Linked DNA regions of Homo sapiens: region 1 is linked to region 2. The links come from fine-mapping of genetic effects on gene expression. A gene starts in region 2. The other region holds a variant in brackets. All regions are shown on one strand. Distances are between the middles of the regions.

The links. PIP is the estimated chance that this variant, and not a neighbour inherited with it, causes the effect.
Region 1: its variant is the best candidate, but not a certain one, in a credible set for the expression of C2CD3 in anterior cingulate cortex (GTEx, PIP 0.84).

The regions. Positions count from the first base shown.
Region 1 is chr11:74,109,442-74,125,549 of GRCh38, reverse strand. It overlaps C2CD3 (C2 domain containing 3 centriole elongation regulator), which reads left to right. Exons shown (of 33, transcript NM_001286577.2): 8 at 2,415-2,562; 9 at 7,168-7,322; 10 at 10,957-11,166; 11 at 11,658-11,770. Among named protein-coding and RNA genes, the nearest start is that of C2CD3, 54 kb to the left of the region's middle. The variant T/G (reference allele first, on the strand shown) is at 6,835.
Region 2 is chr11:74,162,914-74,179,021 of GRCh38, reverse strand. It overlaps C2CD3 (C2 domain containing 3 centriole elongation regulator), which reads left to right and starts at 8,020. Exons shown (of 33, transcript NM_001286577.2): 1 at 8,020-8,284; 2 at 10,409-10,678. The coding sequence starts at 8,230. PPME1 (protein phosphatase methylesterase 1) reads right to left here and starts at 7,733. Exons shown (of 14, transcript NM_016147.3): 1 at 7,500-7,733. The coding sequence starts at 7,600. RefSeq lists enhancers at 6,939-7,861, 7,639-8,088, 7,862-8,785.

The DNA.
Region 1 (16,108 bases), 53 kb after region 2:
TTCATTTTTCATAATAGGAAGTTCATAGATCATACAGAAAAGTGAAAAATCAGAAAATAACAGTATATTAATGTGTCACTTCAAAATATAGAGGTAAAGCCAGGCATGGGGGCTCACACCTGTAATTCCAGTATTTTGGGAGGCTATGTCAGATCGTTTAGTTCAAGACCAGCCTGGGCAACATAATGAGGCCCAGTCTCTACAAAAATTTTTAATTAGCCGAGTGTATTGGTGTGCACCTGTAATCCTAGCTACTACTAGGGAGGCTGAGACAGGAGGAACCCTTGAGCCCAGGAGTTCGAGGCTTCAGTGAGCTATGATCACACCAGTGCACTCCAGGCTGGGCAATAAAGCAATACCATGTCTCTAATACAATTTTTAAAAAGAGAAATATGAAGGTAAATACCAGAAGAAGCATCCAAGGGAATTGAAAGTGATCACCTCTGAGGAGTCAGTCAGCTACTGTTTTTTATTATAAGCCTTGTAGTCGTATTTGACTTTCAAAATAGGTATGTGTATTCTTTTATTTAAAATTATGTCTAAGAAGAAAAAGAAAAGGATAGTCATGAGAATAGGCTTATTTTATGGCCAAGGAACACAGGCAAATTTTAGCCCTTTTAGTATATCATAGACAGGTGAATAAATTCAAATAAATATTAATTTCAAAAAAGAGTAAAAAGTGGAAAAGTCTTCATAACTTTTAAGGGTGTACAAAGTGGGGAATAACAAGCAACTGGAAAAATTTTCATAACTTTAAGGGTATACAAAGGGGAGTGTATATGTGACAAATAATACAGTTATATAAAAGAACAAAAAGTAAAGTTTCAAAATGAAGTAGGTCTCAAACTCCTGGGCTGCAGAAGCTGCAGAGAGGCCATGTCGACTGGGAAGTTGTTAGTTGGATTATGGCAGTTAGGAAGCTGTTCTGACCTTTGAGAGTTACTATAGATTGATGGTTTTCAAGGAGGGGGTGATTTTTCCCCACCCCAACCCCATGAGACATTTACAGTGTCTGGAGACATTTCTCGGTTGTCACAACTGGGAACGTGCTACTGGCATCTGGTAAGTGGAGGCCAGGGATCTGAAATGCATAGGACAGTCCCAAAGATAAAGAATTGTCTGACCCAACATGTCAGCAGGGCTGAGATTGAGAAACCCTGCTGTAGCCTAAGGAAAGGTGAGGAAGGGAATGTTAACTATCTGCTTGTTCAAAATAATATAAGAACACTGTCTAATTTGAAGGTAGTGATTATATACTATTTTCTTGAGAAATTAAGGAAAAAAGTATAGCAGCTAGCTTGAAAGGAAGCAACATGGAAAGAAATAATAAATAAAATGTGTATTACAGTACCTGGCATCATGTTCATTAAGAAATCATTAAGTTCACTAACAGGTGCTTATTAAATGTTAATTACTGTAGGAGAAACAGAAATATATGCATACTTTGCCCTCAAGGAGCCTAAACTTTGAGGGAAAATATGGAATTTATACAAGGACCTGAAAGAAAGTTAGAAAGTAAAAATTGCTATCAAAAAAGGGACCAGTAATCCCAGCACTTTGGGAGGCCAAGGTGGGTGGATCACCTAAGGAGTTAGAGACCAGCCTGGCCAACATGGTGAAACCCCATCTCTAAAAATACAAAAATTAGCCAGGCATGGTGGCAGGCACCTATAATCCCAGCTACTAGGGAAGCTAAGGCAGGAGAATCACTTGAACCCAGGAGGCAGAGGTTGCAGTGAGCCTAGATCATGCCATGGCACTCCAGCCTGGGCAATAAGAGCAAAACTCCACCTCAAAAAAAAAAAAAAAAAAGATACCAGCGTGGGATTTCAAAAAAAAAAGGAGTATTTGTTCCTTCAAAATTCTGAGTTTATAGTTACTTATATGCTTATCTTCCTATTAGTTTGTAAACTGTGTTTTATTCATTTTTTGTATTCGATATAGAACTAATATCACCATAATTAGTCCTAAATACACGTATTTTTGTTTATTGGAAGTGGGTGTATCTGTGAATTTTTTGCAAAATCGATATATAATATTTAACTCATTGAATTATACCCTTTTTTCTCCCTATCAGACTATAAATAATACAAGAGTACAGATTGTGTTAGCTTAGCCACCTCTATATCTTCCAGGACCTAGCACATAATAAGTGACCAATAAATGTTTGTTGAATACATGAATGAGATCACAATCAGTGTCAGTAGTGTGTTTCTGAATACTGGTTGTTAGCATCCCAGAGGAGGGGTAGTATAATTGGGAAATATTTATTCAGTAGTCTTTTGTTTAATGTGAGTCTTTTGTTTAACATATCTCCTTCCACATTTAGAACCTCAGAAAGTTTCACTAAAGAGAGAATAGTTCAGCTGAAACTTCTATTAAAATTCTTCTGCTTTGTTTTCTTATCTCTGCAGTGCTGAATTATCCCAAGGCAATTTCTGGGATGGGCTAGGCTCTCCTCCAGATTCCCCATCTCCTGGGAGTGATGTGTATTGCATCAGTGAGCTGAATGACCCTCAGTATGACCAGAGTCTTCTGGAGAATTTATTTTATACAGCACCTGTAAGTCACTGAACCTGAAGCATTGAGAATTAGAGAACAAATGTATTAATAATATTAGTAGCTGCAGGCATGACAGCTATGCATTTTACATAACTTACCTTACTTAATTTTAATGACAACCTCAAGAGGAAAGTATTATCTTCATTTTACAGATGTTGAGACAGGCCTAGTAGGATTTGAATATTTTGTGCAAGAACATATAGCAAATAAGTATTAGAGCCAGAATTCAAATTCACATTTGCCTGAGTCCAAAGCCTATGGTTTAATTAATATATTTTATGGTTTCCTTAGAGCTTTTATAAGGAAGAGCTGATGTAGTTATACCCTCAGAACCATCCTTAACTGGTATCTGTTAAAAATATTCCAAAAACACTTCTTACTCACAGGAGACAAAACTCTTCTGGCCTGTAAGACAGGGATTCTCTTTTCTGGCAGCTCTGGTTTTTTCAAAGTTCTTTTTTCTATCAAGCCTTATGCTCTTTTCATTGGCTTAGCATCTTCTAGAATCTATACATACTATGTCCAATCCCTGTTCCACAAGTAGTTATTTATATGTGTGAAGGTTCATACTCCTGATTTTCCTTTTCTCCAGGTCAAAAAAAGATACTGAAATACAAGGTAGTTTATATCAGCCCAGTAGTAAGCCAGTGAGGGCTACCACAGTTTGGAAGAAGCAGGGAAAACTTTTACATGAGATTGTGGGGAAAAACCATAATGAAGAATAAAGGGTTTTAACTGAGATTGAAAGATAGTGTTTTGAGAAGCAGAGAAAAGATACAAAATGGGCGTAGAAAGAATGACCTGTGCAGAAAAACACATTTTTGCGCTACAAGGGACCCAATTGACTAGATGAGAATTTGTGTGGAAAAGGAGTTGATAAGGCAGGCTGGCACATTGCAGCCAATCTGTGAAAGGCTTTTCATGTCAGGTGAAGAGGAAATCACATATCACAAGAGTGTTCTAGGAATCTGTGTCTGGCAACCCTACAGTGGGGCAGACTGAAGAGGGAATAACGAGAAGCAGATAGGAAGCCACTGGGCTACGGGAAGCATGAGACAGAATGCCTGAATGAGAGTACCTGCAGTGGAATTGGACAGGAGGTGGTGGACGGGAAAGACATTAGGAACTGTTAGGATTTCATGACTTCCCACCTTCACAGTCATCACTGATACTGTGTTCCCTATAGGATAAAGAGGAAATATTTATTACACATTTATTACCCATTTTCTGTGTGCTAGGGACTTCACATCTTATCTGTCATTTATTAAATACTTGGGGGGGTTGTTTGTTTTGTGTTTTTATGGCTGAAACTAATAGAACACTAAATACTGTTTTTAATTCATTATTTTGTTTAATTCTTTTTTTTTTTTTTTTTTTTTGAGACGGAGTCTCTCATTCTGTCACCCAGTCTGGAGTGCAGAGGCATGATCTCGGCTCACCGCAACCTCCACCTCCCAGGTTCAAGCCATTCTCTTGCCTCAGCCTCCCGAGTAGCTGGGATTACAGGCACATGCCACTGCACCTGGCTAATTTTTGCATTTTTATTAGAGACAGGCCTTCACCATGTTGGCCAGGCTGGTTTTGAACTCCTGACTTCAAGTGGTCCGCGCACCTCAGCCTCCCAAAGTGCTGGGATTACAGGTGTGAGCCATCATGTCCAGCTCTGTCTTATTTAATTCTTTTACCAGCCGCATGAGATAGTATTATCTCTCTTTTACATAGCATGAAACAAAAGCTTAAAGAGGTTAAGTACAAATAATTAAGTGGCAGAACTGGAATTCTCACCGTAGTCTATCTGACAAAAAGCCTGTATGTTTTTCTACTAGACCACAGTGTGTCATCAGCCTTGAGCATGGTGTTAGAATCTGACCCTGACTGACCTCTCTAACTTCATCTCCCACTTATACCCTTTACCCACTGGAGTCTCCAGCCATACTGGAGTCTCAAGCCACTTGCCACTCCTGAAACATTTTAGCTCTTTTTTTTTTTTTTCTGTAGAGACAGGGTCTCACTATGTTGTCCAAGTTGGTCTCAAACTCCTGGCTCAAGCAATTCTCCTGCCTTGGCCTCCCAAAGGGTTGAAATTACAGGCATGAGCCACTGCACCTGGCCTTAGCTCTTGTATCTCCCTATTTTTTGCTGGTACTAATCCTTCTACTTTGAATGTTGAAATGCTCTTAGCCATCTGATAAACTTCATTCTTGAAGGAGAGGATGTGGAGAAATAGGAATGCTTTTACACTGTTAGTGGGAATGTAAAGTAGTTCAACCATTGTGGAAGGCAATGTGGCAATTCCTCAAGGATCTAGAACTAGAATTACCATTTGACCCAGCAATCCTATGACTGGGTGTATACCCAAAGGATTATAAATCATGCTACCATAAAGACACATGCACACATATGTTTATTGCGGCACTATTCACAATAGCAAAGCCTTGGAACCAACCCAAATGTCCATCAGTGATAGACTGGATTAAGAAAATGTGGCACATATACACCGTGGAATACTATGCAGCCATAAAAAAGGATGAGGTCATGTCCTTTGCAGGGACATGGATGCAGCTGGAAACCATCATTCTGAGCAAGCTATCACAAGGACAGAAAACCAAACACCGCCTGTTCTCACTCATAGGTGGGAATTGAACAATGAGTTCACTTAGACACGGGGCGGGGAACATCACACACCAGGGCCTGTAGGGTGGTTGGGGGCTGGGGGAAGGATAGCATTAGGAGGAATACCTAATGTAAATGATGAGTTGATGGGTGCCACAAACCAACATGGCACATGTATACATATGTAACAAACCTGCACGTTGTGCACATGTACCCTAGAACTTAAAGTATAATTAAAAAAAAAAAAGGAAGTAATCTTACAATCATGCTGTTCAATGTAGCTAGTAGCCACATGCCACTGCTTAAATTAGTTGACATTATATAAAATTTAAAATTTATTTTTCAGTTGCACTAGTCAATAACCATTTTTAAAAGCTGCCACTCAAAGGATAACTTAAAGGCAAAAATCTTTGTAATTTTGCCTTTTAAAAGTTGTATTGTGGTGGTGTGGTGGCTCATGCCTGTAATCCCAGCACTTCAGGAGGCCAAAGTGGGCAGATCACTTAAGGTCAGGAGTTCGAGACCAGCCTGGACAACATGGTGAAACCCTGTCTCTACTAAATATACAAAAATTAGCCAGATATGGTGGCACATTCCTTTAGTCCCAGCTACTTGGGAGACTGAGGCATGAGAATCACTGGAACCTGGGAGGCAGAGGTTGCAGTGAGCGGAGATTGCGCCACTGCACTCCAGCCTGGGCAACAGACTGAGACTCCATCTCAAAAAAAAAAAAAAAAAAGTTGTATTGCTTCCAAGAAGACATTCTTATCATGCTTATTTAAATTAATTTGTCCCCCTATCACAGATCAACACATTATACCCCCTGACATGCTGAAAAAAGGGTAATTTTAAATGATAGACTTAAAATAACTTTGGGTTTGTGTCCTGAATTTATATTATATTAGCAAGCTTTATGTCTTTTTTTAAAAATGGAACCCAGTAACTATAATGCCATCTTCTCTCTTTATTTTACATTTTGTGATGTAGAGGGCTGATCAGTCCATTGCAGTAGCTGCCTTTTCTCAAAATAAAAATGAATTGCAAGGGGCTTAGCCATTGGTTCTCTCATTAAGAAAATTTGTGACTATAGTAAACAGTTCATTTTAGCAAGATTAAAAGCAGAATGAATCATTTGTAGTATAGAATGGTGACAAAAAGTAGTCTTGGCTGGGTACGGTGGCTCATGCCTGTAATTCCAGCACTTTGGGAGGCTGAGATGGGCAGATCACTTGAGCCCAGGAGTTTAAGACCTGCCTGAGCAACATGGCCAAACTTCCTCTCTACAAAAAATACAAAAATTAGTCAGGTGTGGTGGCTCATGTCTGTAGTCCCAGCTACTTGGGAGGCTGAGGTAAGAGGATCACATGAGCCCCAGGGAGGTCAGGGTTGCAGTGAGCTGTGATTGTGCCACTGCACTCCAGTCTGGGCAACACGGTGAGACCCTGTCTCAAAAAAAAAAAAAAAAAAAATAGTCTATCCAGATGATTAGGTGACATCGTCCAAGTCATTTGGCCTCAAACTATGGTAGAAATACAGGCTTTGAAGCCCATGGAGATCAAAATCTGGCTTTACAGCTATGGATCATAAACAAGCTGCCTTACTTTTTTCAGCTCTGATTTTCTCACTTGTAAAAACTGACATAAAGGTACCTTGTCGGAA[T/G]GTGGTGAATATTAGAAATATACATGTAGCATTAAGCATAATACCAGACATATGGTCTATAGTCAATAAATAATAGTTATTATTATTGAGAATTTGAAAGAAGAATCTACCTTCCTTTATTTGCTTTGAACTGAACTTGTAGGTTATTTTTGTGAACTTCAGATTATTTTTGTATAACCAGGAGAAATATGGGATTATCTCCCTGGTGTCAGTTCTTTCTTTAAGAGAATGATGTATGTACAGAGAAGAACTTGCTTTCTTTAGAGAAATGTTTCGTAGCTACAATTCCCAAAGCAGCAGTCATTTAGTGTCTCTGTTTCTTCCTCTCCATAGAAATCTGATACCAGCATCAGTGATTTCCTCAGTGAAGAGGATGATATCGTCCCTTCTAAAAAAATAAGCCAGTCAACAGCTCTTGCCAGATCATCTAAGGTTCTGGAGTCAAGTGATCATAAGCTGAAGAAGAGGTCAGCAGGCAAGAGAAATAGGTGAGCTGCTCTGACTGTTTATTTAAAGGTAAACACAAAGGAATGTTATTTTCACAAGATCTCCCAAGGTGAAATGACCCATTTGCCCAGCACCATCAGAGTGATTAATTACAATAACTCAGTAAACATTGTAATTCTTAAAAATGTAATAATCTGAAAAGATGGCTAAATTTGTTTTCCATAGGTTTTGGGGAACAGGTGGTGTTTGATTACCTGAATAAGTTCTTTAGTGGTGATTTCTGAGATTTTGGTGCTCCCATCACCCAAGCAATATGACACTGTACCCAATTTGTAGTCTTTTTTTTTTTTTTTTTGAGACGGAGTTTCGCTCTTGTTTCCCAGACTGGAGTGCAATGGCACGATCTCAGATCACCGCAACCTCCACCTCCCAGATTGAAGCAATTCTTCTGCCTCAGCCTCCCGAGTAGCTAGGATTACAGGCATGTGCCCCCATGCCCGACTAATTTTGTATTTTTAGTAGAGACGGCGTTTCTCCATGTTGGTCAGGTTGGTCTTGAACTCCCAACCTCAGGTGATCCGCCCACCTTGGCCTCCCAAAGTGCTGGGATTACAGTTGTGAGCCACCACACCCGGCCTCCAATTAGTAGTCTTTTATCCCTCACCTTCTTCCCACTCTTGCCCTCAGTTTCCAAAGTCCATTGTATCATTCTTATGCCTTTGCATCCTCATAGCTTTGCTTCCACTTATGAGTGAGAACATATGATATTTGGTTTTCTGTTCCTGAGTTACTTCACTTAGAAAAATGGTCTCCAATTCCATCTAGGTTGCTGCAAATGCCATTATTTCATTTCCTTTTTATAGTTGAGTAGTATTCCATATATATATATATATATATATATATATATTTGAGGCCAAATGACTTAGACGATGTCACCTAATTATTTGGGTAGACTACTTTTTTTTTTTTGAGACGGGGTCTCACTATGTTGCCCAGGCTGGAGTGCAGTGGCACAATCACAGCTCACTCATATATATATATTCATATATATATATTCATATATATATATTCATATATATATATTCATATATATATATTCATATATATATATTCATATATATATATTCATATATATATATTCATATATATATATTCATATATATATATTCATATATATATATTCATATATATATTCATATATATATATTCATATATATATACACACACACGTATATATACATATACACGTATATATGTGTATATATACATATACACGTATATGTGTATATATACGTGTATATGTGTATATACACATATATACGTGTATATGTGTATATACACGTGTATATGTATATATACATACACGTGTGTATATATACACGTGTGTATATATACATATACACGTGTATATACACATATACACGTGTATATATACACACACGTATATATGTGTGTGTATATATATACGTGTGTGTGTGTATATATATACACACATATATGTATACCACAATTTCTTTATCCATTCATTGATTGATGGGCATTTAGGCTGGTTCCATATTTTTGCAATTGCAAATTGTGCTGCTATAAGCATGCAAGTACAAGTATCTTTTTCATATAGTGACTTCTTTTCCTCTGGGTAGATACCTAGAAGTAGGATTGCTGGGTCAAATGGTAGTTCTACTTTTAGTTCTTTAAGGAATGTCCACACTGTTTTCCATGGTAGTTGTACTAGTTTACATTCCCACCAGCAGTGTAATAGTGTTCCCTTTTCACCACATCCTCACCAACATTCTTTTTTTTTTTAATTTTTTATTATGGCCATTCTTGCAGGAGTAAAGTGGTATCGCATTGTGGTTTTGATTTGCATTTCCCTGATCATTAGTGATGTTGAGCATATTTTCATACGTTTGTTGGCCATTTGTATATCTTCTTTTGAGAATTGTTTATTCATGTCCTTAGACCACTTTTTGATGGGATTGTTTGATTTTTTCTTGCTAATTTGTTTGCATTCCTTATAGATTCTGGATATTAGTCCTTTGTCAGATGTATAGATTGTGAAGATTTTCTCCCATTCTGTGGGTTGTCTGTTTACTCTGCCGACTGTTTCTTTTGCTGTGCAGAAGCTTTTTAGTTTAATTAAGTCCCATCTATTTATCTTTGTTTTTGTTGCATTTGCTTTTGGGTTCTTGGATATGAAGTCTTTGTCTAAACCATGTCTAGAAGGGTTGTTCCATTGTTATCTTCTAGAATTTTTATGATTTGAGGTCTTAGATTTAAGTCCTTGATCCATCTTGAGTCGATAGTTTTATAAGGTGAGAGATGAACATCCAGTTTCATTCTTCTACATGTGGCTTGCCAATTGTCCCAGCACCATTTGTTGAATAGGGTGTCCTTTCACCACTTTATGTTTTTGTTTGCTTTGTTGAAGATCAGTTGGCTATAAGTATTTGGCTTTATTTCTGGATTCTCTATTCTGTTCCATTGGTCTATGTGTCTATTTTTATACCAATACCATGCTGTTTTGGTGACTGTGGCCTTATAGTATAGTTTGAAGTCAGGTAATGTGATGCCTCCAGATTTGTTCTTTTTGCTTAATCTTGCTTTGGCTATGTGGGCTCTTTTTTGGTTCCATATGAATTTTAACATTTTTTTTCCTAGTTCTGTGAAGAATGATGAGGGTATTTTGATGGGAATTGCACTGAATTTGTAGATTGCTTTTGGCAGTATGGTCGTTTTCATATTTTTGATTCTACCAAGATAGGTATAATTTAAATGGTTAAGGAAGAAAGCAGAATTCTAGGTTGTATGTGTACTGTGATCACAACTGTGTAGAAAATATGCATAAGGAAAGCAAATGAGAAGGAATACACAAAAGTGACAATAGTAGTTACATTAGAATAGTGGGTAACTGAAATAAGGTCTGTGTCCCTTCTAGAAAAACCTAAATTTGGAGTTTCAGTTTCTGTACTCATATGTATTGTATAATGTATGTGTGTGTATATATGTTGTGTGTGTATAAGTGTGTGTATATATATGTATGTATATATATATGTATGTATGTGTGTGTGTGTGTGTATATATCTATATAGTATTTTTAAATTTTTTTTTTACCTGGGAGCATAGATTCAAATTACCCTGAATATACACTCTCAAACCTTTAGATTATATTTTTTTTTTACATTTTTTGAGATTTCTTGTACTATAGGACCAGAATTCTGATAATAAAAGCTGTTTCCAATCCTTGATAACTTGTGAGTCAAGATACTTGGCTGGGTGTGGTTGTTCACACCTGTAATCCCAGCACTTTGGGAGGCTGAGGCAGGAGGATTGCTTGAGTCCGGGAGTTCAAGACCAGCCTGGGCAACATAGTAATATCTCATCTCTACAAAAAATACAAAAATTAGCCAAGTGTGATGACCCATGCTTGTGGTCCCAGCTACTTGGGAAGTTGAGGTGGGAGGATCATTTGAGCCCAGGAGGTCAAGGCTGCAGTAAGCCATGATCGTGCCACTGCACTCCAGCCTGGGTGACAGAGCAACACCCTGTGTCAAAAATAAAAATAAAAAAATAAAAACTTGCTGCCCTCCCTTTTTCCTCATCTTGCCTGTGCAAACTAGATTGTTTCATGTGAAGCCTGTAGCAGTATGCCTCACTGCTTGTGTGAACTCCTTTCAGAAATTTGGTTGAACAACAGATGCTCTCAGAAACTCCAGAAGATGCCCAAACGATGACACTAAGTGTGGATAGACTGGCCCTTTTGGGTAGAACACATTCAGTCAGAATCATCATCGAAACCATGGGAGTTCCTCCAGATAGTCCTCAGATGACCCCTGGCAAAAAAAGCTATGCTGGTCCACCACCTAAGGTGACTACAGCAAAAAAGCGGTATGTCTCTAACATGAGAAAGCTAAATTTGACATTTTTGGAAAGTGTGTCTGATGGTAATAATCAACAATTGCATAATACTGTGATTTGGGATGTGTTTTCATATGCATCATTTAATCTACAGAAATATATTGAATCCCTGCTATATCCCAAGAACTGTGTAAGTAAGTATGGGACTAAAGAAAATTAAGATACAGACTCTGTTCTTACATATCTTACAGTTAGCAGGAGAGAGAAACATTTAAATGGCTATCTATAACATAAAGCTTTAGGGCCCAAAATAGATGTTTTGTATTAAAATTGCTGTGGGAACACAAGAAAGGGAGCCTTTGATTCTCTCAGACAGGGTTGGTGGAAGGCTTTGAAGAAGAGGTAGGGCCTCTGAGTACTAGAGGTCCTGAAAGTAAGATTTCAAATATATGTTGGATTTATCAGACGGAAATTAGGTTTATTGTTTGGTTAGTTTTTAATCACTTTTTTTTTCTTTTTAGCACTTTCTTTGTAGAATATCACTTTCCTGTGGGCTTTTCGGAAAGCGGATTGGGAAAGACAGCTTTGATCACTGAGGTTGTTCGACTCGCCTCCAGTAAAATTACAGATGGAAGTAAGAGACACACTGGTTTTCTGCACCTTAGACATTCTGACTTTGGAAGAATTTTTGAATTCCTAATTACTCATTTGACTTTTTTTTTTTTTTTTTTTTTGACATGGAGTCTCACTCTTTCGCCCAGGCTGGAGTGTGGTGGCGCAATCTCTGCTCACTGCAGCCTCCACCTCCCGGGTTCAAGTGATTCTCCCATCTCAGCCTCCTGAGTAGCTGGGATTACAGGCGTATGCCACCACACCCAGCTAATTTTTGTATTTTTTAGTAGAGACAGGGTTTCACCATGTTGGCCAGGGTGGTCTCAAACCCCTGACCTTAAGTGATCCGCCTGCCTCGGCCTCCCAAAGTGCTGGGATTACAGGCATAAGCCATCACGCCCAGCCAATATTTTCAAGGCTGTGCAACCATCACCACAATCTAATTTTAGAACATTTTCATCCCCCCTAAAAGAAACCCCATACTTACTAGCATTCGCTTCGCATTTCCCTCTTCCCCCAGCCCTAAGCAACTGCTAATCTTTCTTTCCCTATCAATTTGTCCATTCTGGATGTCTCATATAAATGGAATCATGCAACTTGTGATTTTTGTGACTACTGTCTTTGACTTACCATAATATTTTTAAGTTTCATGTTATAGTATATATCAGTACTTCATTCCTTTCTATGGCTGAGTAATACTCCATTGCATAGATATACCACATTTCATTTATCCTTTTCTCAGTTGCTGGACATTCGTGTTATTTCCACTTCCTGGCAATTTTGCATAATGCTGCTATGTGAACATTTGTGTACGTGGTTTTGTATGGACTGTGTGCTTTCATTTCCCTTGGGTATATATCTAATGGTAGAATTGCTGGGTCATATGGTAACTTTATGTTTTAACTTTTTCAAGAACTGCCAGACTGTTTTCAACAGTGGCTGCACCATTTTCCCACTAGCAGTATATGAAGGTTCTAATTTGTCTACATCCTCGTCAACACTTGTTACTTTCCATTCTTTTTTATTCTGGTCATCCTGGTGGATGTGAAGTGACATCACATTGATTTTGATTTGCATTTTCCTGATGGCCAATCATGTCAAGCATCTTTTCATGTGCTTATTGGCCATTTATAGATCTTCTTTGGAGAAATGTCTATTCAGATCCTTTGTTCACTTTCAAATCAGGCTTTTTGTTATTGAGTTATAAGAGTTCTTTGTATATCCTAGATACAAGCCCCTTATCAGATCTATGATTTGCAAATATTTTCTCCCATTCTGTGGGTTGTCCTTTCACTCTCTAGATGGTATTGTTTACAGCACAAAAGTTTTTAATTTTTATGTACTCTAGTTTATCTGTTTTTTTTTCTTTTGTTGCTTAGGCTTTTGGTGTTGTCTTTTTTTTCTAATTTGTTTTAAATATTTCAGATACAGAAAAAGGATAATATAATAGACATTTATGTTCCTGCCACCCAAAATTACAGCCACTTTTCTAATATATTCTGAGGATAGCTTTGCCTTGGTTCTCCAGTTTGATCTATGAATAGTTAGTTCATCAGTGTTAAGTTTATTCTCTGGGAAGTAGTTTGAGAAATAAAAGATGTGGTCCTAACACTCCTACTACATAGTCAAATAACTTTTCCTTTACAGCATAGTAACACGGGATTTTTAAATTTTTACTTTGCTTTGTTTTGTTTCCTTTTTGAAATAGATAATCCATTCACATGGTTCAAAATTGAACGGTTGCATCCTTGCAGACAATCAAGATTGTTGCTTTTATATCCTTCCTTAAGCCATTATAGATAGATAGATAATGTGTGTGTGTATATATATATGTGTGTGTGTGTGTGTGTGTGTGTGTGTGTGTGTGTGTGTGTGTGTGTGTATCAGCAAATATGTTTACTCCAGGGGTGTCCAATCTTTTGGCTTCCATGGGCCACGTTGGAAGAAGAATTGTCTTGGGCCACACATAAAATACACTAACAGTAATGATAGCTGATGAGCTTAAAAAAAAAATCGCAAAAAAATCTTACAGTGTTTTAAGAAAGTTTACAAATTTGTGTTGGGCTGCATTCAAAGCCATCCTGGGCCACTTGTGGGTTGGACAAGCTTGGTTTATCCCTTCCCCTGCCTCCCATCCCCCATGTTTCTGCAAGTATTAATGCACCATACACAAGTTGAGTGTCCTTTCTTCAAAATGCTTAGAACCAGAAGTATTTAGGATTTCGAATTTTTTCAGATTTTGGAATATTTGCATATACATTAATAAGATATCTTGGGGATAGGACCCAAATCTAAACATGAAATTCATTTATGTTTCATATAGACCTTATATGCATAGCCTGAAGGTAATTTTATACAATATTTTTAATAATTTTGTGCTTGAAATAAAGTTTTCACTGCATTTTGACTGAGACCCATCACATGAGGTAGGGTATGGTATTTTCCACTCTGGCATCATATTGGCATTCAGAAAGTTTTGGATTTTGGAGCATTTTGGATTTTGAGTTTTGGGGTTAGGGCTGCCCAACCTGTACATGGTTCTGCACCTTGCCTTTAACATTATATCTTAGGAATTTTTGCATATCAGGACGTAAAGAGGAAAGAGGAAACTCACAGATGAGGAAAGAGGAAACTGAGACATAAATTAGTTAAGTAGCTTCTATGAGATCACACAGCTGGTTTATGGTAGAACTAGAATTTCAACCTAGCACCGTTTCGATTCCAAAATGTGCCTTAATCTGTATTGCTTCTTAAACATTATTGTTGTTGTTGGCCACAGTGATTGATCTTCTCTACATTTTTCTGAGAAGGATTATATAGGAAATGTGGAATAAGCATTGAGCAAAGAATTGCAAGACTGGGTTCTAGTTCTGATTATACCACACACTAATCATATGCCTTAGGCAAAATCACTTTCTTACCTGTGGGCCTCTCTTAACAATAATATGGATTAGACTAGGTATTAATCTGGATCCCTTTCAACTCTTGAAAAAAATCTTCTCTGGGACACTGTTAGCAAGTTATTTACCTGAATTTCTTCTTCACTTACTGCCTTAACTCACTTTTCAGTGGTAAAAAATAATGAGCCTAAGAAACAGAATTATATAAGAAATATAGTAACAGTGCAAGAACATACCCAAGTAGTAAGGAGAAATTGAAATAGGATTGTTTGTACATAAAGAATTTTACAGTGTTCAAAGTGCTTTTTCCTTTATTACCTCAGTTCATCCTCCCAGCACACCAATGAGGTGCAGGTGTTATCTTACTTCCCTTTCCCAGGTAGAGTAACCAGATAAACTGATCTAGTGGATGTGGGCTTCCTGGCCCCAGACCTTTTGTTCATAGTTCCTGTGCATTGATCCACATAGCAAGGTCCAGATCCTGTCCAACAGTGCCAAGAAAAGTATAGAGTCGCCAGTTAATATGGCCAGAGATGAATAGAGAGATCAGTAGGTTAAAATGGGTCATTTGAATGAATGCTAGAAATAGCAGATTCTCTTCATACATAACTGGGCCTCTTGTGAAGATTCTTCAGATTCATGATCCATTTTAACAGCCTTAGCAGTGAATGGACAGGAAGATCATTTTATAGGTGATAAATTGTTTCTGCGGTGGTAAGTAATAGTAAGTATTAGAACTGGAGCTTAAACTTATATCCTTTGATTCTGGTCTCAAATTCTTTTTATTTTATTTTATTTTATTTATTTATTTATTTATTTTTGAGACAGAGTCTCACTCTGTTGCCTAGGCTGGAGTGCAGTGGTGTGCTCTAGGCTCACTGCAAGCTCTGCTTCCCCGGTTCACGCCACTCTCCTGCCTTAGCCTCCCAAGTAGCTGGGACTACAGGCGTCTGCCACTGCGCCCAGCTAATTTTTTTTTGTTGTTGTATTTTTAGTAGAGACGGGGTTTCACCATGTTAGCCAGGATGGTCTTGATCTCCTGACCTCGTGATCTGCCCATCTCGGCCTCCCAAAGTGCTGGGATTACAGGCGTGAGCCACCGCACCCGGCCTCAAATTCTTTTTATTTACCAGTTAAAACTCCATGGCCATGAGCACAAACTCAAATACCACCATCACTTTATCCACTTACACTTATAGTTATAGCAGAAACCCCTTCCTTTCCACCCAAGAGATAGACTCCTTTGCCTGACACTACTAGCTAACATCAGTACCTGATAACTTGTTTGTGACAGTAAGAGTGTCCAGAAGGTAGGCTTATTTTTGTATTATAGTTTTTTATTCCATTCTTCTATTTATCCCTCATTGTTCCACCTCCAACCAGCCCCCTTCTTTTAGTATACTACCTACAAACTAGTCTTTTAAAAACAGTGCTATTACCTAAAACCCAGTGAAGTATAT
Region 2 (16,108 bases):
GAATATACCTGTAACTTGTAATCAATATTGTATTTGAAGAATATCTAAGTGTGGCCACCCTCTTAATAGAACTATTAATTAAAAGTTTCTTCTCTTAAAAAAAAAAAAACTATTTTGTAGTTTGAAGGAAACAGTCTTTCCCAAACAACTAGAGATGTTTTCTGAAATCTGACATCAAGTAGCATAACATGGAAGGCTCATTAGGTTTAAAATAAAACAAAAGAGCAAATTACCCAATTTTGGAGATACTAAGAAGAAATAGATTTGCTGGCAATAAGCAACAATGGAAAAACGGACTTTTACTCAGAAGTTCTGAAATGAATGTCAAGGGGCTGAAATCTGGCAATAAGGGGCAGGGGAGTTGGGGGTGGGATTATTACTTCCTATACTTACACTGCAATGAAAACAGTAGGGAAGTTGAAATCAGAAGATTAGGCTTCTCCACTTGTTAACCTCAGGATTTGGGCCAGATGCTGTTTATTCTCTATTCCAGACATTACCTGCCCACTTCCCACTCTCTCTTCCCTAACAGAATTGTAATACTTTTGTTTGAGCAGCTAGTGGAGATCTCTTGTTGTCTCTCCTCCAGTCCAAGGGAATGAATCAAAATTGGTCTAAACCAGTCATAGTTAATCCCATTCCCTACTGCCAGTGATTGGTTTTAGGATGGGTATGTGAACAGTTCTGGACAATAAGACTTAAGGGAAAAATCTGTTGGGGAGCTTGCATTTCTGGGAAAAAATTAAAAGACAAGCTTAGCTAGGAAAGGACTTTGGCCCCCGCTTCTTTTTATTTGTAAAGATAAGATAGAAGTAGAGTGGCAGCAGCCATCCTGCAACCATAAGGTGACAAGCAAGAGAAGGAAAAGCCACCATTCTAAGGATGGCAAAAGAAAGGATGCAAACAGCCTGGGTCCTGAATGAAATTGTTTAGCAACTGAATGAACCCTGGAACATCCTATCAATAATAAATGTCCTTGTAGTTTAAACTACAGTAAACTGATAACAGCAAATTAGATTGTTTCACATCAATATAATGTTGCTAATGTGAGTTTGGGGATTTTTGTAGACTTAATTGTATTTAAAGAGTAAATCTACTGAGTTTCACAATTATTTAAGAGTACTATTGAATTTAAGTAATATTAGATTGAATATAACTTAGGTCAATACTTGGAATCTGAAATATATTTCCTTCAAAAGGGATTCATACAAATTGAAAGATACCATATTTCTTCAAGGAACATTCAACATCATAAAAACGTTTATTCTAAATTAATGTTTGTATTTAATGTAATCCCAATAAAAATACTATCAGGATTTTTTTCTGGCACTAGTCTATGGGATTAGAAAGTTTATTTGTGAGAAAAAAACAAGAGGAACCACGAAAATCCTCAAAATGAATGAGGGGTAAACAACCTCTACCACCCATCAAAACATATTAATAAATCCTCTAATTAAAAGTACAGTAGTGGCACGTAAAAGAAACTCCACAGACCCGGATTTATATAGAAATTTGGCATATGACAAAGGTGTCATTTTAATCAGTGAGAAAGAAGACTTTTTTTTTTTTTTTTGAGACAAAGTCTCACTCTGTGTCCCAGGCTAGAGTGCAGGGGCATTATCTTGGCTCACTGCAACCTTTGCTTCCCGGACTCAAATGATCCTCCAGAGTAGCTGGGACTACAGGCACACACCACCACACCCAGCTAAATTTTTGTGATTTTTGTAGAGAAGAGGTTTCACCATGTTGTCCAGGCTGGTCTCCAACTCCCAAGCTCAAGTGGTCCACATGCCTTGGCCTCCCAAAGTGCTGGGATTACAGGCATGGACCACTGAGCCTGGCCAGGACTATTTCTTTATTGTAGTGAAATTTACGTAATGGGTAAAGGACTAAAAAATTTAATAAATGATGAAAACAACTAGATAGCCTTTGGATAAAAATAAAATGTCTTCTTTTCCTCACTTTGCATATCAAGATAAACTTCAAATGGATTAAAAAAAAATTGGCTCATGCCTGTAATCCCAGCACTTTGGAAGGCTGAGGTGGGTGGATTACCTGGGGCCAGGAGTTCAAGAGCAGCCTGGCCAACATAATGAAACCCCGTCTCTACTAAAAATACAAAAATTAGCTGGGTGTGGTGGTGCATGCCTGTAATCCCAGCTACTTGGGAGGCTGAAGCAGGAGAATCGCCTGAACCCGGGAAGTGGAGGTTGTAGTGGGCCAAGATCACACCACTGCACTCCATCCGGCCTCGGTGACAGAGCAAGACTCTGTCTCAAAAAAAAAAAAAAAAAAAAAAAGGACACTACACAGGTACCAGGAAAAAATATAAATGATTCCTTTATAACCCAAAAAAAGGAAAAGCCTTTCTGTGACTCAAGATCCAGAAGCAATACATGCTGGGAGGAAGGGAAGATGCTAATGAGTAACGAGTTTATGGGAGGATGAAAATGTTCTGCAATTAGTGGTGGTAATTGTACAACTGAGTGAATATACCAAAAATCACTGAATTGTACATTTAAAAGAGTGAATTCTATGGCATATAAATTTAACTTTTTAAAAATCTAATGAAAAAATAAAAAAAAAAACAGAAATACTGGGATTTGATTATTTTAGTAACTCAATTTGTGACCTTGAGCAAATCACTTCACTTTGCCCTTTATTTCCCCATCTGTGTGAATAGCTCATTAAAGCCTTCCTAAGAGGCCTGATATCCATAATAAATTTAAGAAGATGGATGAAAGACTATCTAATCAGATATGAATAAACATACAGCTTGTGGGGACAAAAAAGCTGATAACATAAGAAACTGAAAGGAGAGCTTCCACATAAACTATGAACCTTCTTCACAGTTCTCAATGTATAATTATCTACTAGCTATCATTCTTTAAGAGCTTATGTGTCAGTGTCAGGAACTATAAGTGCTTTTTATGTATTATCTTATTCTCACAGCACTCTCAGGTAAGCAGAAGTATTCTCATTTTAGAGATAAGAAAATAGACTATGAGAAGTTAAATGACTCGACCAATGTAAATACCTAAGTTGGGCTTCAAACTTAGATCTTTGTCACTTCAAATATCAAACCCTTCAATGCAAGCTATAGAAAGAACAATGGACTAAAAATACGAAGTCCTGGGTTTGAATGTTGTTCCTGCCACATAATGATTCTGTGATCTTAGGCAAGTCAATGAACATTTCAGTTTTCTCATTTATTAAAAGAAAATATTAACTCCTGCCCTAGTTTACCTCATAGAATATAAAAAGGGACTACTATATACATGTCAGTTAAATCACTACAGAGCTGGGCATGCTAGCATGTATCCTCAGTCCTACCTACTCAAGAGGATGAAGTGGGAAGACTGCTTGAGCCCACGAGTTTGAGGTTGTAATGCACCAAGATTATGCCTGTGAAAAGCCACTGTACTTCAGCCTGGGCAACACAGCAAGACTCTATCTCTTGCAAAAGAAAAAAAAAGGAATTTAAGAGATAATAATAGAAAAGTAGAACTTTTTTTTTTTTGAGATGGAGTTTCGCTCTTGTTGCCCTGGCTGGAGTGCAATGGCGCGATCTCGGCTCACCACAACCTCCGCCTCCCAGGTTCAAGTGATTCTCCTGCCTCAGCCTCCTGAGTAGCTGGGATTACAGGCATGTGCCACCACGCCAGCTAATTTTGTATTTTTAGGAGAGACGGTGTTTTTCTATGTTGGTCAGGCTGGTCTTGAACTCCCGACCTCAGGTGATCCACCCGCCTCGGCCTCCCAAAGTGCTGAGATTACAGGCATGAGCCACCACACCTGGCCAAAAAGTACAACTACTGATAAACCAAAAACACGTTGAATAATGAATGGCTTTAATATTTTATAGTTCCTCTAATAGTAATAGTATATACGAAAGCAGTGACTTTCAAAAGATACTTCTCTCAAGCACACCAGGGGTGCAAAGCAAATAGGGATCTCAAATCTACTTTAGTCAGAGTAGCTCTAAAAGCTTTAATAAAGAAGTTCAAAACCACTGTTTTTGGCAACATCCATTGGCATCTATTAAAAGGAAGAGTGACACCAGGATTTCAGGCCTTACCCAAGAGAAAATATTAGTGTACTGAAAAGTGAATGGATTCTAGAGACTAAACTTAGATTGAATCCTAGCTCTGCTACCTACTAGTTGGGTTACTTTTAATCTCTGGGTCTGAATGTCTTTACCCACAATGCAGGAAAATATTCACCATGCAGGTCTGTGGACACATTAAATAACATAAAGTTACCATTACAATGTCTGGCACACAGTACTTACTTTAAAAATTGCTATTATTAAATTATCCAACAATACTTTGGAATTACTAAATCTAATCTGAAAAACTGAATTATGGAAACTCATGAAAAATCACCAACTCAGAATATGCACCCTGAATATGCAAACATGCCTAAATAATGTTTAGTGAAATTGAAGGCAAGAGATCATGAAAAATAGTTAAGAGTAAGCCACACAAGAGACTATCAAGAGAACAGGACTAACTTGTGAGTAACATAGATAGAGTGGAAGAATGGAAGTTAAGAAAAAAGCAAGTAAGCATAAGGAGACATAAAGAATGCTTTGAAATTGGTGTGAGACTTCATAAATTACGACTGAAGAAAAAGACTGAATCCTAGATTATATGCAAATGAGTAAGATACACAACTCAAAATAAGTATCCCCAGATGACAATTATGACTCCAAAATACACAATGGGTCTCACAGTCAAGAGACCCAAGTCCTAGTCCTTAACGGCCCTACCGCTAAGCTTCTAGGGTACCTTAGGAATATCTGAGTCTCAGTTCCCTCATTTATTAATACATTCCCTTATAGAATACAGAACTCTCTGAATATTGGGTTCCTCAACTACATGAAGTGGTGAAATGAGACCATGTCTATGCTTTCTCTCAGCTTTATGATTCTAAGGAGAAAGAGAATCTATATTATTACTACCATGAGACTTAGATGAAGCCTGCTTATATACCAATAAAGTAGAAAAGAAAGATACGGGAAAATAAGCCATTTGAGGACCACACAAATATTCGCCAATATATGCTCTTCTCTTCACAATACTATCATAAAGAAAGGCCTTTCTAAAGAACTTTCTTTTCCAGGATAAGCAGTTAACCTAAACCAAGAAGACCAAAGCATCTTTTTAAAAAGGTAAGTTGTCCAGGCACAGTAGCTCACTCCTATAATCCCAGTACTTTGGGAAGCCAAGTGGGGCAGATCACTTAAGGCCAGGAGTTTAAGACCAGCCTGGCCAACATGGCGAAATCCCCTCTCTACTAAAAATACAAAAATTAGCCGGGCGTGGTGGTGCATGCCTGTAATCCCAGCTACTTGGGAGGCTGAGGCACAAGAATCACTTGAGCCCGGGAGGTGGAAGTTGCAGTGAGCCGAGATTGTGCCACTGCACTCTAGCCTGGGCAACAGAGTGAGACTCTGTCTCTAAAAAAAAATAAAATGAAAAGTAATAAAAAATAAAAACGATAAATTACTAACAATTATACAATCTTCTAATCAGCAGATTTTCCTTTTTTTTTCTCTCAGTATCTTCATTCAGTTCTTCAATCTTCAGAGAACTTGTTTCTCCAAGATGAGAAGCTGAGCTCTAATTAAGCTTATCTAAGGAATGTATAATTATTAAAAATCTGATTTTCTTATGTATTTGTATAGAAGGGTGCTGGTATACTGAAAAATCAAATTTATTTTAAGAAAGGCAGCAACTAAGATATTTAACAACAATTAATGTTACATTAATATTAAACTCCAGGTTAGTTTTCCCAAATAATGTTATGGGTCAGTTTCCAAATTCTCTTTATTCATGTTATAGTCCAACTTTTCTGTCTTCCAAAGCCAAAACAATCTTCACTTTACCTTCTATGTAGCCTTCTACCTCTATTGTGCGTCTATCTCTCTATCTCCTCCTGCTAAAGTTTTCTCATTTTTCTACTGCGTATCATAGCAGGTCTCCACTCAATTCTTAGTTTCCTTCCCTGGTTTTTCCACCCATTTTTCCCATTCCTTTACCCCACTGTTTTATAGGATTCTCCTTTCTTTTCATCCCTAGGACTTACTGTCACAGTACTGCATCTCCTACTCTCGCCTCCTTTTTGATAAGTTTTTACACATATTACTTCTTCAGAACCTAAGGTTTCTCTTCTGTAGTCCTTTTTCAAAGAATATCTACCAATTCATCTCTAGAATCCCAAATATACTCTGGAGCCCTCATACCTAAGTATCTTTCCTACTCCTTTTCTCTTTACAGTCACTAATTCCCAGAATCCTGTTTGAAACTACAAATATCCCCTCAAAACCAAATGCCTATTCAATTCTCTCCACTTTCCAGCAATTACTTCTCCCATGTTCACCTCATTCTTTCTCCTCGGCCCAAGTATCCCCTAACCTGGCACAAGCCATTTAACGATCTAAAATTCCAAAACCTATCTCTTCTACATGGCTCTCCTTCCTTTCCAGCAAACTATTTCTCGAACTCCCAATGCTTCACTAATTCAAAGTCTTAGGCCAGTACGTCGCTTCCCTCAGATCTACTAGCCCAGCAAAAACTGATTGCCCAAATCTTCCTCTAAGCTTCCCAGACCTTACAACTGCAGCACTTCCATTCACCAAACCGTATTTATAGTCATCTCTCAATCTTTAGAGCCTATGGTCACTCTGTAAATTCTTCAGTTCTCTCCTTCTTCTCTCTCCCTTATCCTGTCCAGCTTCTCACTCTGTAAATTCTTCAGTCCTCTCCTTCTTCTCTCTCCCTTATCCTGTCCAGCTTCTCAGCACATTCCTACTACCCTTAACAATCTTCGTGGCTATGTTCTCCACCTTACCTTAGGCCTACTCCCTAAACTTTCTCATTCTCCCTTAAGAGACCTAATCTCACCTCTCATTCGCTGAATCTGTCTTTACACCTCTGGGAATTCTCTAGAATCGTCTGCTTCCTAGTTCTCCTCTTTCCTTCTCCAGCCCTGTCTCGAGTGTTTTCTACCCCCCTCAGCTTTTCTAGTATCTAGTTCTCACAGTGCAGATATTAGAACTCTGATAATATCTACTCCTCCCAAACCTTTCCTTAGTTGTTGGCCCAATTCCCCTCAACTTTTCTCTCAGTCATTCCCCACTTCCCTCCACCTTCCCTGGCCGATTCTCCTCCACCTTTGTCACCGTTCTACTCCCTTTTCTAAGCCTCCTTTATTGTGGAAGTGATTCTCAGATCCCTTATGTTAGTCTCTCAGCTTCCCCAACCTTTGCCTCATTCCCCTCTCCCTTCAACAACGTTATTTTTCCTCCAATTTCTATTGACTTGGCGCCTCCCCTAGTACCCCAATCTGCCTTCTACTCCATCTAAATATCTCCAGGCCGCCAACATTTTCTCCTATCAGTAGACTCCTTTCCCGTGCCTCTATGAACGCCCAGAGATACCATTCTCCAACGGCTGGGGCCTGGCCCATAGGGAGAAGGGGTATGGGTCACGTACCCCATTCGCATCTTGGCTCCGCTCTGACTGCCCCCGCTGCCGGGTAGAGGTGGGCGAGAGGGAAGGCGGCCGAGGTGCATGCTCTTTTCGAGGGCCGACATCGAGGGGAGGCTGCACGCACGTAGTCAAACAGTAGGCGAAGCTTCGTCCCACGTTGAGTGTGGCCCAACCGGTCACGACTCGCTCCCCTAACGACGCCCTGTCGCCTTTGGACAGCACCCAGCTACCCGTAGCACCGCCTACCGCCCACCGGCTCCGTAAACTCCACCCACTCGCTTCAGCGCTTCCACCGGAAGTGCGCAACAGCACTCATACAAAGGAAGCTGGGTAACAGAGTATGAGAACTCCGCAGACTCCCGGCTGGGAACCCGACGACTTTCACCGGAAGGAGGAGCGCTCTTCAGGGCAATGCACCCTGCGCAATGGAGTCCACAAAGGGCGCATCCCTATGCGCTTGCGCAGCTGGAGGCGCCCCCCAGCCAACCCCGGAGAGGTATTGTAGCAAAGCGTCCTGGGTATTGTAGTGTATTGGAGGGAAGGCGTCTTGGCGCCTTCTCTTCGCACCGTTTTCCGGAGACTGTTAGAGGAAGAGTCGCTTTTTCCTGCCTCCCAGGCTGCCCAGCGGCGCCGGTTGCCGGGGAACGCAGGCGCCGTGGGGAGGGATGGCGGGAGGATACTGCTTAGGTGCTGGAGACGGAGTTGAGCTGGTGAAGAAGAGCTCGGGCTCATCATGAAACAACGAAAAGGCCAAGGGTCTGGGGGCAGCCGTGGGCGCAAAAAAAGAGGTAACCTGAGCGATCAAAGATTGAGGAAAGCGTAATAGGAGAGCAGGGTGTAAGGAATTTTAGGGAGACCCGCACCCCCGCTGGATAAACAAGAAAAGGGACGTAAGAAGGAAGTAGCCAGGGAACCAGAAGGTTAAAAGGAAGGGCAATTGGCCCTCCAGAGAATAGAAAGGAATTAGGGGCTGGGGTAGGGGCCACAGACAGGCGATTAATGAGATGAAGGTTACCGGTAGGATGACTGTAGAGGAGAAGAACAAACAATGATGGGATTGGTTTTGATAACGAAGTGAAATGTATGTGTGTGTGTAGCTTTCGAGGTCCACAGGGACAGGAAGAAACATAAATTGGCAAAGGGATTATATCATTTGTTGTGTGATTGTGGGCAAGAATCACGTTTTATACATTACTGAATGACCAAGGATTAGTACAAAGCAGGACTCGGTAAATGTTAGTTGAATGAATGAAGTATGAAGGGCTGACTATGAGCAGGAGTTGGGAAAAATAATTGTAGAGTATAGAGCCGGGAAGAGTGGGGAATGACAGGTGTGATAGGATTGGAGTGGGGGTAAGGGCATGACGATCTCCTGAAGGACCTGAGATCATGAAAGAGTGTGCAGCAGAGAGTCCTCATCAGGTTAGCAGCTCAAGGAGACACAAGCTCACCGAGTAGGGGATGTTAGCTGCAGTGAGAACAGTCAACCTAGGAACCCAGGGCAGATCAGGAAACTTGACATTGAATCTCTACAAGACTGCCTCGAAGGGAAAAAGGACAGTGGGTGACCCTGCCTTTTTGCATTGTAGGCAGTTTAGCGAGAAAAGAAGTATTGGGAACAGTGATAGGACATTAGGCCATTGGGTTGAGGACTGAAGCTACAATCTGGGAATTACTCTTATCCAAGCTGTTTAAAGATTACTAAGGCAGTTTTGAGATACTGACTTTCCTGCCAGGAAAGATAGGAGGATCTGAGACTGAAGCATACTAGTGCTCCCTGTGTCAAAACAGTTAAGCATGTTTGGTTGATAATCGGAAAGTCAAAGTAGAAATAATATAACATAGCATAGAACAGAATACACTTTTTGCTATACCATTTCCATATGTAGAAATGTATACACAACTGTGTATAATTTTTATGTTGAAACTATCCATAAGGATTATGGTGGGTCTTTTCTCCACTATAGAGGGCAGAGGCGGTGTTTGCATTAGAAGTCCAAATAATTAGTCCTGATCTGATACATTCCATATATTTTCTTCTTTGAGGCATAACCACTCCTCAAAGAAAAGTCAAAGGAAAAAAAAGGTATAAATAATATAGGAATGGTTTCTTAAATCTCCTTTAAGTTTTCCCGAAAAGGTACTATGAATGAAAGACAATCAGGGTCATTAAAGGAAAATTTTTTAGAAAGTCATGATTAATTGCTTTGTTTACACTTTAATGTCTTTATGAAACCCAATAAATACTAAAGCCAATAAATATATGAACCCAGCACTGTGTTAAAAATAGTGGCAGAATCTGAAGATTAGATAGTCTGTGTCCTCACTGACTGTGTGATCTTGGCAGGAAAGAAAAGTTACAATTTAAGACGTTCTTCATTGAAATGCTGAGTTGTATGATATAGTCTAAATCGTTTGTGAGTGAAGGGAGTTGTTGCTGTTTTATCGTTAGTGATTTTTTTAAAAGAGAGTTAGATAAAGATTACATATCTTAAAAACCATAGATGTTGCAATAATTAAAACAACTGTACTTAGAAAAATTTCAACCATACTTAGAAAAATGTCAACTACTTCTGATATTTGTATTTTTCAAATAGTAACTCAACTAAAGAAAAGTTTATATTAGTGTGTCTTTGTTGGTATGTTCTTAACTTAGAGTAAATCAAATCAAACCTTAAATACTAATTAGTTATCAGAGTGGCTTACATGACCAGATAGATTATTCGGTGGTCTGATTTGATAGTTACTTCTCATGTATTAGAATAATGGGTAGGATAAACCTTCTTTCTAAGTGGTGATAAATTGCTGAACTTAAGACTAAAGTGTTCTGTTTGTTTTCATTCAAAAAGCATATTATATGTTTTCTATATTTAGTCTAAATTTTGACTCAGTTTTCTTGGATTCCTCTACAGGTTTAAGTGACATTTCTCCATCTACAAGCCTGCCACCTCTGGTTGAAGGCCAGCTACGCTGTTTTCTAAAACTTACTGTTAATAGAGTCATATGGAAGATTGCAAAGCCTCCCACTTGTGTACTTGTCCGAGTGAGATGGTGGGGAGAAACATCAGATGGAACCCTCTTTTGTCCCAGGGATGCATTGCAGACTGAACCAAAAGCTGTGAGAACAACTACACGTTACGCTATTCGTTGTGGTCCAAAACAGTTTACCTCTTATCTAACAGGTATGTTATTGTTTTATCATTGCACCTGCAGACGTAATACAAAGCATGTGGTTATATTGTCAGCAATAAGTGTTGTTGTGTACCTAGCATATATGGGCATTCTTAATTATTGAAGAGTCAAAGAGTTTTTATAGTAGACATTTTTCTTTGTAAATTTATTGAGTGTTACTGTGTGCCAGCAGTTTTGAAATGTATTACTTCTAATCCTTACAATAACCCTGAAAGATAGGTATTTTCTCTGTTTTATAGACAATTAAACAAGTTGGAGAGATGAAATGAATACTTTCTAAGGTCACAAAGTTGATAAATGGCTGAATTAGGATTTGAACCCACTTCTGTCTGTCACCAAAACTCATGCTCTTTTCACTACACCATGCTTTTTTAGGTAATAACTGTAGTCTCAACTCTGGGGTTTACATTATACTCAAGGAAAGAGGATATAGATGTAAAATTTACCAATAGTACAAGATAATACATACTAAATGCTAAATGAATGGTTTAGTGAGTTAGTATTACAGATGTTCAGAAATGGAAAGCATCCCTCTGTAGGGAACCAGAAGCCAAGATGTCTTCATTTTTGTACAAGAAAAGTATTCTGAGTGTACTATGTTACTTCTTTATTCAGGTCAAGCTTTCACATAAATACATTTTGGATGATGGGGTTATTTATCAAGTCAATTCAGTTCAAGTCAATAAAATTCGAGCATTTATCATGTAAACATGGTTGGGCTCAGAATATTGGAGAGCCAGGGGTGAGTTAAGATTAACTTGTCCTTGAGTAACTTACATTCTCTCGAGAAAAAATTTTTGAAACATCAACATGTAAAGAACAAATGCTGTAATTCAGTCATTCAAAAAATATGTTTAGCACATACTACACATTGTTTTAGGCACCATGGGGTTTACAAAAAATCCAAAAAATTAATAAGAATGATCCCGAACTCTAACTTCACAAAAAAGTTTAGTTATTAATAGTAGGTTAAAAGCAGTAAGTGCGATTAAAAGATATAAATAATCTTGGTACTGTAAGCTTAAAAATTAAATCCTCAGGTAGTATTTTTATATAATATAACAAATGAGGAGTGATTAGAAATTCAATAAGAGAGAAGGTATTTATTAACATGGTAATCAACAGGTCAGACATTTATTTGAACATCTTATGGTATATTGGTGCATTGGACTTGGCATCCGAACATTTACATTGGTGTTACCAACTACATGATTTTAGGAAAGTCTCTTCCCATATCTGATTCCTGTTTCCCCATCTGTAAAATGGGATCATATAGTTGCCCTTCCATTTTCTAGATATTTGCACAAAGAAGCAACCCGGTTGAACGGGTTGACATCTAGACAGTCTAGAGTTTGAACTCTGGCTTCAGGACTAGATTGTTAGGTGATGCTGAGAGGTTCCTTAGCATCTCAGGGCCCCAGTTTCCTATTAGTTAGTTGGGAAAAATAGCACTTACCTGTCAGGAATTATTGTGAATACTAAATGAAAAAAATGTTTGTAAAGTGATCGGTCTAGTAGCTGACACATTGTAGGTACAAGTCTTATAAAAATATTAAGACTCAGGCAGCGTGTACAGAGATTTGAGATGTATTCCCTGCCCAAAAGGAACTTAAAGATTAGTTGAAAACAAAACTGACATACATGAAACAGTATTGAGCAATGCCAGACAGTATATAATTAAATGTCTGATTACTTGACACATATAGTAATATCATATGAATATTCTAGGAAGTTAATAAGGGCTAATCTTATGTTATTAAGAAGCCAGAATCCTGCTTCTACTCTATGCTCTTGCTGTTTGACTTTGAGCAAGCCATTTCATCTTCTTGGGCCTTAATTTTCCCACCAGTAAATTGAAAGAGTTAAAACATCAAATGTGCCAGCACCCAAATTTCATAATTCTAGTTAAGAAAGAAGGCCATGGAAAAGGTAGAATTTCAATAGGAGACACATGAGGTGAACCTTATAAGTGACAGTCCAACTGTAGACATGACATGGTTTTTTTTTTTTTTTTTTTAAGACGGAGTCTCACTCTGTTGCCCAGGCTGGAGTGCAGTGGCGCAATCTTGGCTCACTGCAAGCTCCGCCTCCCACTTCCTGGGTTCACGCCATTCTCCTGCCTCAGCCTCCTGAGTAGCTGGGACTACAGGTGCCCGCCACGACACCCAGCTAATTTTTTATATTTTTAGTAGAGATGGGGTTTCACCGTGTTAGCCAGGATGGTCTCAATCTCCTGATCTCACGATCTGCTCGCCTCAGCCTCCCAAAGTGCTGGGATTACAGGTGTGAGCCACCGCACCCGGCCGACATGATGTGTTTTTTAGAAAATGAAGCGATAAGAGGCTGAACGTGGTGGCTCACGCCTGTAATCCCAATACTTTGGTGGCTGAGGCAGGAAGATCACTTGAGGCCAAGAGTTCAAGACCAGCCTGGGTAAAACCCTGTTTCTACAAAAAAATTAGATTCCACATGCATAGCAAGACCCTGTTTCTACAAAAAAAAATTTTTTTAATTAGCTGGGCATGGTGGTGCACACCTGTAGTCCCAGCTACTTGGGAGGCTGAGGTGAGAGAAATCACTTGAGCCCAGGAAGTCGAGGCTGCAGTGAGCCATGTTCATGCCGCTGTACTCCAGCCTGGGTGACAGAGTGAGACCCTGTTTCTAAAAAAGAAAGAAAATGACAGAAAATGAAGAGATAAGACATCAAATATTAGTTCACAAAAGTATGTGCTCTAACCAAAAACTTGGAAAAAGTATGCTATTTCTTAAGCTGTGTGGTAGGTATTCGCATTATTATTATTTTATTTACTCTTTTGTGTACATATTTCACTTAATACAAAATGCAAAAAGTAAACTAATTAATATGTTGTCACATATTAGCATGAACCATATTTTTTTCTCAAGCCATTTTTATTACACTTAAGGTATTAAGACAAGTGCAAAATAACCTTGTAATTAGGATACTGTATCAGTCAAAAAAGGAGAAGTCACTATTGCATGAAGAGATTTACAAATGAGTGAAATATATAGGCTGTGCCAGAATTAACATTTGAAATGAGATGGGGTTGCTCTTTTTTTCTAGGCTGGAGAGAGGTAGTAAGAACGATTATATGAGTTCCTCAGATAAAAATAACATATAAAAAAAGAAGAGGAAATGTATCACATTTTACAATTTTTGAAATACTTTCAAGTCTATCATCTTATTTGATGTTTAAAATCATTTTATTTATTTCTTCGTATCTATTTTATTTTATTTTATTTTTGAGAAAAGGTCTCTCTCAGACAGCCGGGCTGGAGTGCAGCGATGCAAACACAGTTCACTGTAGCCTCAACCTCCTGGGTTCAAGCAATCTTCCCACCTCAGCCTCCTGAGCAACTGGGAATATAAGCACATGCCACGACACTCACCTAATTTTTGTATTTTTTGTGGAGATGAGGTCTCATTGTTGTTCCCCAGGCTGGTGTCAAACTTCCATACCCAAGCAATCCTCCTGCCTTGGCCTCCCAAAGTGCTGGGATTACAGGTGAGCCACCATGCCTGGCCACTTTCTTCATATCTATTTTACCTTATTCTAAACAGAAGTTAAGGCAATTGCAAAAACATGTTAAGTACAGATTTCTGTTTAACTAATGAGAAAACCTTTACATTTTAAATCTTCATAACTTTTTGTTTACAGAAAGTGAAAATACAGTAGGAGAAATAAGATGAAGCCTCTGCAGAGCACTAGAAAGCATGCTCTGAGGCCCTGTACATTTGCAACGGGTATTATCCTGATTTTCTGAGTGACGAATTTGAGGTTCAAAGAGTTAAAAGTAACTAACCCAAGGTTACCCTGGCACCAACCCTAAATTCAGGGAGGCACTTGACTCCGAAATTATTGATACTTCTATTGTATTATACTGCCTTAGGAAATAGAAGGATTATAGGATTCTGAGATATGCCTCATACTCTTACATCTTTCTTCCTTTACGTTTTATTCTGTTGCAGAAAATAGCAGCCATGAAAATGTTTGGAGCATGGAACTACTAGAGTAGAAACTGAGAAAATTATGGCTACACTACGTGATTTTTACCTGTCTTTGATCAGATAGGATTCAGTTAGTAGGAATGTGAAAGACAAATCGGAGTAGGAATAGTGCTGGACAGTAGGGATTCTAATTCCACAACAAGTGAAGTATAAAGGTCAGAAGTCTACTAAGAATTAAGCTTTTTGTCCTAGAAGTGATGAATAGTGTAGTGGACTTATAATTAAGTGTAGTGGACTTATAATTGGATAGAACTGAGTTTTAGCCCAGTTCTGTCAATTTAAAGCTGGGTGAACCTAGGAATATACATGACTTTGCGGAGCCTCTTTTATCCCCAAATGAAGACAGAAACACCAGTATCGTAGAGTTGTTAAGAGAATTAATGAGATGTGGAAGACCCTGGCTGTTAGTAAATAGCCAATGAATACATGTTAGTCCATTTCCCTTATTCTTCATGTGTACATCATTTTATAGTCTACAAAGCACTTTTATATCTATTTGCTCATATGACTTTCAGATAACCCCCATGAGTGGTGTATTAGTCCATTCTCATGCTGCTATAAAGACATACCTGAAACTGGGTAATTTATAAAGAAAAGATGTTTAATTGACTCACAGTTCCACATGGCTGGGGAGGCCTCAGGAAACTTACAATCATGGCAGAAGGGGAAGCAAACACGTCCTTCACATGGCAGCAGGAGAGAGAAAAATGAGTGCCCAGCAAAGCAGGAAGCCCCTTATAAAACCATCAGATCTCGTGAGAGCTAACTCACTATCATGAGAACAGGATAAGGAGAACCGCACTTGTGATTCAGTTATCTCCCCCGGTCCTTCCCATGACACATGGGGATTATGGGAATTACAATTCAAGATGAGATTTGGATGGGGACACAGCCAAACCATATCAAGTTGTTACACAGGGACTATGATATGTCAAGTAATTTGCCTAAAGTCATTTACCAACCATTCAGCAACTACCATGTGGGAAGACACTGGACTGTACTAGTGTTCTGCTTGCAGCAACCCCAGTTCCTCAGAACAGCAGTGATGCGAATATTATGAGCCTACTTTACAGACAACCATGGCTTATACAGAAATAGCTTGTGAATATTGCAGTCAGAACACAATCACAAGTCTTCTAATAATAATTCCTACATGCTTTTCACTACAGTATTAACAAATGCTGAAAACGAACCATTTTCTCAACTTTGGTTAAGAAAATACCAGAAGTTAAACTGTTCTGAAATGATCTGAGATTCCTTATGCATACATTATATTTCTTCTCCTCTGGGCATGAAGGTATTAGTCTAAGTGACCAAAGAGTATAGTTGAGAAGTTTATTTTCATTTCTCTTGGTTCCAAGTGCTCTCAATAGCTCAGTGGTCCAGATATAAC